Homo sapiens: one gene and its partner. The protein of the gene in region 1 purifies or fractionates together with the protein of each later gene. This does not show direct contact. Each region holds a gene or a part of one and is shown on either strand. Other genes may lie near its edges.

Region 1 (3,815 bases):
AGTGGTCATTTAACATGACCACTGGCTTCAATGACATAGAGGTGGCTAGATGTTAAGATGAAGTAGACTGGGTGCAGTGGCTCACGTCTGTAATCGCAGCACTTTGGGTGGATCACCTGAGGTCAGGAGTTCAAGACCAGCCTGGCCAACATGGTGAAACCTCATCTCTACTAAAAATACAAAAACTAGCTGGGTGTGGTAGCGCCCACCTGTAATCCCAGCTACTTGGGAGGCTGAGGCAGGAGAATCACTTGAACGCGGGAGGCGGAGGTTGCAGTGAGCTGAAATCCTGCCATTGTACTCCATCCTGGGCAACAAGAGCGAAACTCAAAAAAAAAAAAAAATGATGAGGCATGGAAGAAAATCCATATGAAGAAGGTGGGGTGAGGAGTGAGTGGGAAGCAAGAAAACAAAGCCAGTGAATATAAAACACTTTTTCAAGAGAAGGTTGCTTGTGAAGGAGACAGGGCTAGAGCTGGAAGGGCACAGCAGGGTCAATGGAAAGGGTTCTGGGAAAGATGTGATGGAAGGGAAAAGGCTGAATACACAAGAGATGAAATACATGGACAGGATTAGGTTTTGACAAGGTGGAAGGAGATGTAGAGGTCAAAAGATCGGTCTTAGGAAAGACACCTTATCTTCCGTAGAAGGAAGAAAAGAGAAAATGGGTGCCCTATTCTGTTTTGATGTTTCTGAGCTTTTTCTTTTTTCTTCAAAGGAAAAAAAATGTTTTCAGGCCACTCAATTTCTACTGTCTACAATTAAGGTGAACACACATAACTTTATACCATATTGTTGGGTTTGTGTATTTTCAAAATAAGATCCAACTCAGGAAAAGTATAAAGGCAAGATCAAGTTTACATACATTATTGTCAATTTTGTTTAAATCTACATGTTCATTATAAATATACAGGGCTGTTTCTCATTACCTAGAAGATGGCTGGGTCATAAGACAGACTGGATACATTCCAGTCAGAAACCTACCATCGTTCAACGTGTAGAGATGAAAACGTCCGTGAAGCTGCTTCTCGAGTAAATAATTTGAACCCACACTGTGTGTCCCTGATTCCTTTGACACAAAGGAACCACACCAGAAAGTGGAACCCATACATGAGAAGAGTACGGAAGTAAGAACGCTGAAAACAAAGACAAAATATAAATGACTTTTCCATTCATCTGTAAAGGAGACACTGAAAACACCTGGCTGTAGACAACTGTATTTTAATATTTAATTGACTGGTAGATCTTACATAAGAACACCACTGTTCCATGAGCTTCACCAACAAAGTATATTAAAGAAACAGCAAGAATGCCTACTGCTTGGAGCAGAGTAGAGGCACTAGGAAGCAGTTACTCATTTCCTGGAGGTTGAGTCAGACAAGCGGCCAGGGCTTTAGCCTACCAGGAGAAACAGGTTTGGGGCTGCTGCTGTGAGCAAGGAGAACGTCTTGTTTACTTACATATTTTATGCTGCTTTGCCCCACATGTATTTCAGTTTCAAAAAAGCTGTCAGTTTCCAGGATGTATTGACAAAACAAAGCACAGATATAAGCCTGCAGTTGATACTTAACTAATGAGAATATTGACAGAAGATGTATAGCAGAGTATCATGAAGGTTATGGACTAGAAAGGAGTTTGAAACAAACACCTGGTCTTTCTAAGCATGCCAGAGATCTAATTAAATACATTTAAAATATTGAGTTCTTTAATACTTTGGATATTAAGATTAAGTAGGTTTTAATCCCATCTGAAGTTTCACTACTGTTACTGATGATTAATTTTATTAGTAGTAACAGAATATTCCATTATTCATAAAACATAGCACATTTTAAAACATAAGAACATAAGATTATTATCACTGGATTCCAGACTTTCACATTTAAGATTTAGTAAAAGATAGGATCTTTCTAAAAAATAAAATAACAAAATTTTTTTTAGAGACAGAGACGCCTTCTGTTGTCCAGGCTAGAGTCCAGTGGTGTGGTCATGGTTCACTGCAGCCTCAAATTCCTGGGATCAAGTGATCCTTCTGCCTCAACCTACAGAGCAGCTGGGATCACAGGCGTGTGCCACTATACCCAGCTTCTTTAAGACACGATCTTTTAAAATGTTCCTTAGTTAAGGCAATAGACTCAAGTAATGATGCGTTACTTACATACATAAGCAACCTATTAAGAGTCTATTAGAACATTTAATATCTCATACTATGGGATAAAGGTCCCTTCCTCCTTTTGGCTTTTGCTTTTCAAAATTATAATTTTTAGTATCGTTCTTCCTTTGCATGGCTTTTTCCATCAACACCAAACAGAACCACAGTGGAACAGAGTAACAAAGAAAAAGCACCAAATCAGGCGAGGTGCGGTGGCTCACACCTGTAATCCCAGCACTCTGGGAGGCCGAGGCAGGTGGATTGCTTGAGGTCAGGGGTTCAAGACCAGCCTGCCCAACATGGCGAAACCCCATCTCTACTAAAAATACAAAAATTAGCCAGGCATGGTGGCACACGCCTGTAGTCCCAGCTACTTAGGAGGCTGAGGCAGAAGAATCGCTTGAACTTGGGAGGCACAGGTTGCAATGAGCCGAGATGGCGCCACTGTACCCCAGCCTGGGTGACAGAGTGAGACTCCAACTCAAAAAAAAAAAAAAAGAAAAAAAGAAAAGAAAAGAAAAAGCACCAAACTAGGAGGCCTATATTGGAATCCTGGCTCCGTTACTAATTAGCAGGGTGACCTTCAACAAGTTACTTCAGCCCTCTAAGTCCATTTCCTGATAAAATGAGAATAATGCCTACCTCACAAAGTTATTATAAGGATTAAATGAGATTATTTTAAAGAATATAGCGAAGTGTTTGGCACAGAAAATAACAGGAACTCAATAATGTTCTTCATACAGGAAGAAAGCTTGAAAGCTTACTTTACTCTCCTGACCACAATTTTACTTATGTATTAAATAGGGCAGGAAGGAAAGGAAGAATAAAATACTTATCTATATGGTATGTAAAACAAACTTTTAAAAATGATCTAGCACTTCTCATTTATCATCTAGAATCATTAGTTATGGGTTGATGTAAATATGTCTTACCTCTCTAAGTAGATAGGGCAGAAACCTCATCTTAAAATACTTTAGGAATCTCACAACAGCTTGCTCAGTGCCTTCCATACAAAATACTTCCAATAAATACTGGTTGACTGATTAAACCTCCAAAAGAGCACTTATGCTTAGGAAAGGAACAAATAGAAATTGAAAGATAGAAAAATAAAAATTAAAGGTAGAAAAACAATACCTATAAATTATTCTCCTTGAGTGATTTTTAATGTGATTTGAGTGAGCTTATTTGTTCGCAAATAAAACTATTCATGACTGCTCTGGCTTGGATGTTAATAACAGGATTTTTGTTTGCTTTAGGATAATGGCTATTTTTTAAAAAGCAGAAAAATGTAGAGTTCACATGAAGACCTTAAGTTATTTGATTTCTAACATATTTAAAAGCTTAACAAGGTTAGTCACAAACAAGATAATCTTGTTTTTGTTTTTAGAACTTTGCAAAATATCTTAAAATTTAGAAGATACCTAAAATATAGGATAGACTTATTTAGTTAAGTGAAGCTACTAAAAGAGAGAAGGCTTATATGATCTTCTGAAATGGCCATTTAAAACATTAAGGAAAACAATTTTCACTGTTTCAGTGTTAACGCTAGTATCTTCAATGTTTATAAAATGTAAACAAGAAATTAATTCAGGTGAAATTTAAAGGTGACTTCTAATTTCATTAACTTAAAATAAGAAGTTCAAAGAAGTCCCAGGACTTAAGCAAA
Region 2 (3,815 bases), on another chromosome or scaffold:
GCCACACTGCTGCTCAACCTGCGTGACCCGCCCCGGGAGCACCCCTACCGCAGCAGTTTTATCAACGTGACTCTGGAGGCCGTGCTGCACTCCGGCTTCCCCCAGCACCAGGTGAGGCCCTGCAACGCAGCTCTGCCCCCGGGAGCCCTGGCCTGGCTAGAGCCCTGCTGCTGCATAGCCTTTCCCTGTTGCACTCCGGACTTCAGCTTTCCCATTTGTAAAATGGGGATCACACACTGCTCACTTCCCTGGCAGGGTCATCATGGGACAAGAGGGGAACAAGAAAACACTTTAAAATGTATAAAGGTCCAGGCGGTCAAGTTATTTCAGTGAAGTGTTGCCCTGTCGTTTGGTGTAATAATCTGGGACCAGAGAAATCTGACATCAGTTTAGGACGGCACACTAGGTGCTAGTGGCCATGTGCAGAGTAGTGGCTGTTTGGGTTTTCCCTCCCGTACTGACAGCAGGCCAGAAGCGAAGTTTCCTGAGTTGCTGCCAGTGCACTTTGCAGCCTTGGCTGGGACTGAGTCCTGCCCTGCTAATGACTTCATCTAAGCTTTCACCGCCTGCCAGGTCCTGTCTCTTAACCCCACAGGTGCTCTAGGAGGAGTAGGTACTCTTACGCATCGTGCAGAAGAGAAGTCTGAGGCTGCCTCTCTTCTGCCTGCAGGTCATGTGGCTGCCTAGCAGGCAGAGGCCCCTGGTGCGGAAGGTGGCTCCCGGCTTCCAACAGACATCAGGCTCCAAGGAGGCAGTCGCCAGCCTGCGGAGAGGCCACATCCAGCGGCTGAACCTGCGCTACACTCAGGTGTCCCGCCAGGAGCTCAGGTGCCTGCCCTGCCCTGGGCTCCTCCAGGAGAGGGTGGGACTGAGTCTCTCCCAGTCCTGCCACCACCACCCCCCAACACACACACACACACACACACACACGGTCGGGCAGAGGGATGGGCACACAGAGGAATCAGGCACACATGGTTCAAAGACAAGAGGGTGAGCGTGTCGGGCAGACCCGGGCTTGTCCCGGAGCTTGGCCCTCTGGAGCCAATGTTCCTTGCCCCGGGCATGGCTGTGAGGTCGTGAACAGGACGTGCTTTACCAGCCCCGACACTGGGCCTGGAGCTGCCAGGGTCCGCATGCTGACCTGCCTCTCCCCTGCCCCACAGGGACTACGCGTCCTGGAACCTGAGTGTGAACCTCTACACAGTCAACGCACCGTGGCTCTTCTCCCTGCTGTGGTGTGCGGGGGTCCCATCCGTCACCTCTGACAACTCCCACGCCCTGTCCCAGGTGCCTTCCCCCCTCTGGATCATGGTGAGTTGGGGGGCAGAGGGCCCCTGGGGGGCAGTGCTGGAGCTGCCTATAGCCTGCCCTGACCACTCGGCAAGCTCTGTGCTTGGAGCTGTCCCTGGGAGGTCTCTAGCATGGTGGGGAGTCCATGGTGGGCGTGCAGGCTTGAGGCATGAGGGTTTCATGGCATCTGGGATCTGCACTAAGGTGCTGGGAGGACCCTGGGCCTCATCCACAGGGAGAAAAGCATCACTAAGGGCTCTAAAGAAGTAAAGAGCTGCTTGGGTTTCTTTGCTTTGGAGGGTAACAAGGACAGGAATAGGAAGCATTGACCGGGCGTGGGGCTCACGCCTATAATCCCAGCATTTTGGGAAGCAGAGGCAGGATGATCACTGGAGCCCAGGGGTACAAGACTAACCTGGGCAACCCTGTCTCTACAAAAAAAAATAATAATAATTAATTAATTTGCTGGCCAAGGTGGCACACGCCTGTAGTCCTAGCTACTCGGTAGGCTGAAGTGGGAGGATTGCTTGAGCCCAGCAGGTCAAAGCTGCAGTGAGCTGTGATCACTCCAGCCTGGATGACAAAGTGAGATCCTGTCTCAAAAAATAAAAATAAAAAAGAATAGGAAACAATTAAAATCTGCTCAGAGAACAGCAAATAAAGCAATATTTTAGCTGGTTGACTGGGCACCTGCAGATAGGTGGTGGCTCCACTGTCACCCTGAGCATGCAGAAGGCAGGTGGAGGGTATCCTTATGGCTGAGAGAATGCAGTGCCAATGAATCAGACCTAAGCTGTGGATGGTTCTATGGGAGAGGAGGGTGAAGGGAAGGCAGCCTGGGGAAAGGGTCGAGACCGATGGATGAGAGTCGGCAGCGGGGGGCGGCAAAGCCATTGTCTTTCAGTATCTGGCTCCTGCTTTGAGGACCCTAGACACACAGACCCTGCAGGCCTAGCACACAACCCCTCTGCCCTGAGCACCATACAGTCCCCTCCTACCCTGAGAGTGCACACGTGTGCACACACACGCCCCGGCCCCCAGGCCCACAGCGCCTGGAGCCTACACCTGCAAAATGTCATCTTCAGCCCCCAGACCCTCTCAGGGTCCTCCCTTGCCCTTCCCCAGTGGCCATGTGGGGTCCTTTGGTCCACGGACCCTCAGTCTGGAGCCTCAGTCTGGACTGGCCATGACTGGAAGTTGGCCTCGGGCCGTCTGTCCACAGCCCCCGGACGAGTACTGTCTCATGTGGGTCACTGCCGACCTGGTCTCCTTCACCCTCATCGTGGGCATCTTCGTGCTCCAGAAGTGAGTAGGATCTGACCACTTCCGTGGCTGTCCCTACCCTGCAGCAGGCCCAGCCCCCACCCCAGCCAGGTGAACCCTCTCCTGAGCCCTGGGCCTCAGCCAGGAGCAGGCCTGACCAGGGAAGAAGGACGGACTCCGGTGGCCCCATCCTCCCTCAGACAGAGGCTGGGTGACTTCTGGAATGAACATGCAGCTGGGATCCCAGAGCCAAGCTCTGCCTTGGGTGGCTATGTGGGCTTAGGTGAATTTCAGCTCCTCACCGGGCTGGCCTGCTCATCTGTTAGCCAGGGCATGGGTTCCCACCAGCCCTCAGCAAGATAGCTGGGGTGTGCTCGCAGTGGGGAGGTGTGGTTGGTCCCAGGGAGGGTCTAGGGCCAGCCTGGGGCCCCCACCCAGCCAGGAACCAAGGGGCTGGGATTTTATTCTTGACTGATGTTCTCTCTCTGTCCCATCCTGCTCTGATCGGCGCATGTCCCTCCTCTCTCCCCCTCCCCCTCTCTCTGCTGCACTCTGGCATCTCACAGCTATCACTTGATCAGGTAATTCTGGTGTGGTCTTCCTCCTCCTTCTGTTCCTCTTTCTCCCTCTTGCCATCCCTTCTCCAGTTCTGTCTAAAAACCCACCGTGCACCAAGCCCTGTGCCCGGGCCACCTCGCAGACAGCGCGCTCGCCTGAAGCCTCCCTTACCCCCGCAATCCTCTTTTCTGCTCCTCCCGTCCCACTGCCGTGTGTGTCCCTCTGCTCCCTGTTCCCACGGCCGTTTCTGCAGGTGGGGACCAGCGTTTCCTTGACAGCTTCCTGACCTGGCCCCTCTCTGCACCAAAGTGTCTCCCTGGGGGAGGGGACCCTGCCTGGGTACCCCCATCCCCCTGCCTCTGGCACTTACAGGGGCCTTCACCACTTGCCCAGGGCAGACCCTACCAAGTTTCTGCCTCTCTCTTCCCATCTTCTCCCTCCCTGGCTCTGCCTCTCCCACTGTTCACTCTTCCTGTTTACCTTTCTCTGCCTCTCCCATCTCTTTCTCTCTCTTCTTTACATTCTATCTCTAACACCCATCCCTGCTTTGCTCCCCGCAACACACAGCCTTTTCCTCATTCCCCTCAGAGGACCCCACAGTGGCTGAGCTTCCTGTTCTGGATATGCCTGGCCGAGAGACCCTGGCCTGACACTGTCCTTCTGGGTTTCAACATGAATTTCCAGGATGGGACCTAGAGCTTAGG

The links.
Region 2: the proteins of ALG5 (region 1) and GDPD5 purify together in Homo sapiens (co-immunoprecipitation; one large-scale study listed by IntAct). This does not show direct contact.

What each region holds. Positions count from the first base shown.
Region 1 is NC_000013.11:36,964,591-36,968,405, forward strand, and holds part of ALG5 (dolichyl-phosphate beta-glucosyltransferase), read right to left. Parts: intron 3,218-3,815; exon of another isoform or gene 3,082-3,217; intron 1,137-3,081; coding exon 985-1,136; intron 1-984. UniProt on the Homo sapiens protein: Dolichyl-phosphate beta-glucosyltransferase that operates in the biosynthetic pathway of dolichol-linked oligosaccharides, the glycan precursors employed in protein asparagine (N)-glycosylation.
Region 2 is NC_000011.10:75,438,659-75,442,473, reverse strand, and holds part of GDPD5 (glycerophosphodiester phosphodiesterase domain-containing protein 5), read left to right. Parts: coding exon 1-111; intron 112-670; coding exon 671-828; intron 829-1,163; coding exon 1,164-1,311; intron 1,312-2,512; coding exon 2,513-2,595; intron 2,596-3,815. UniProt on the Homo sapiens protein: Glycerophosphodiester phosphodiesterase that promotes neurite formation and drives spinal motor neuron differentiation.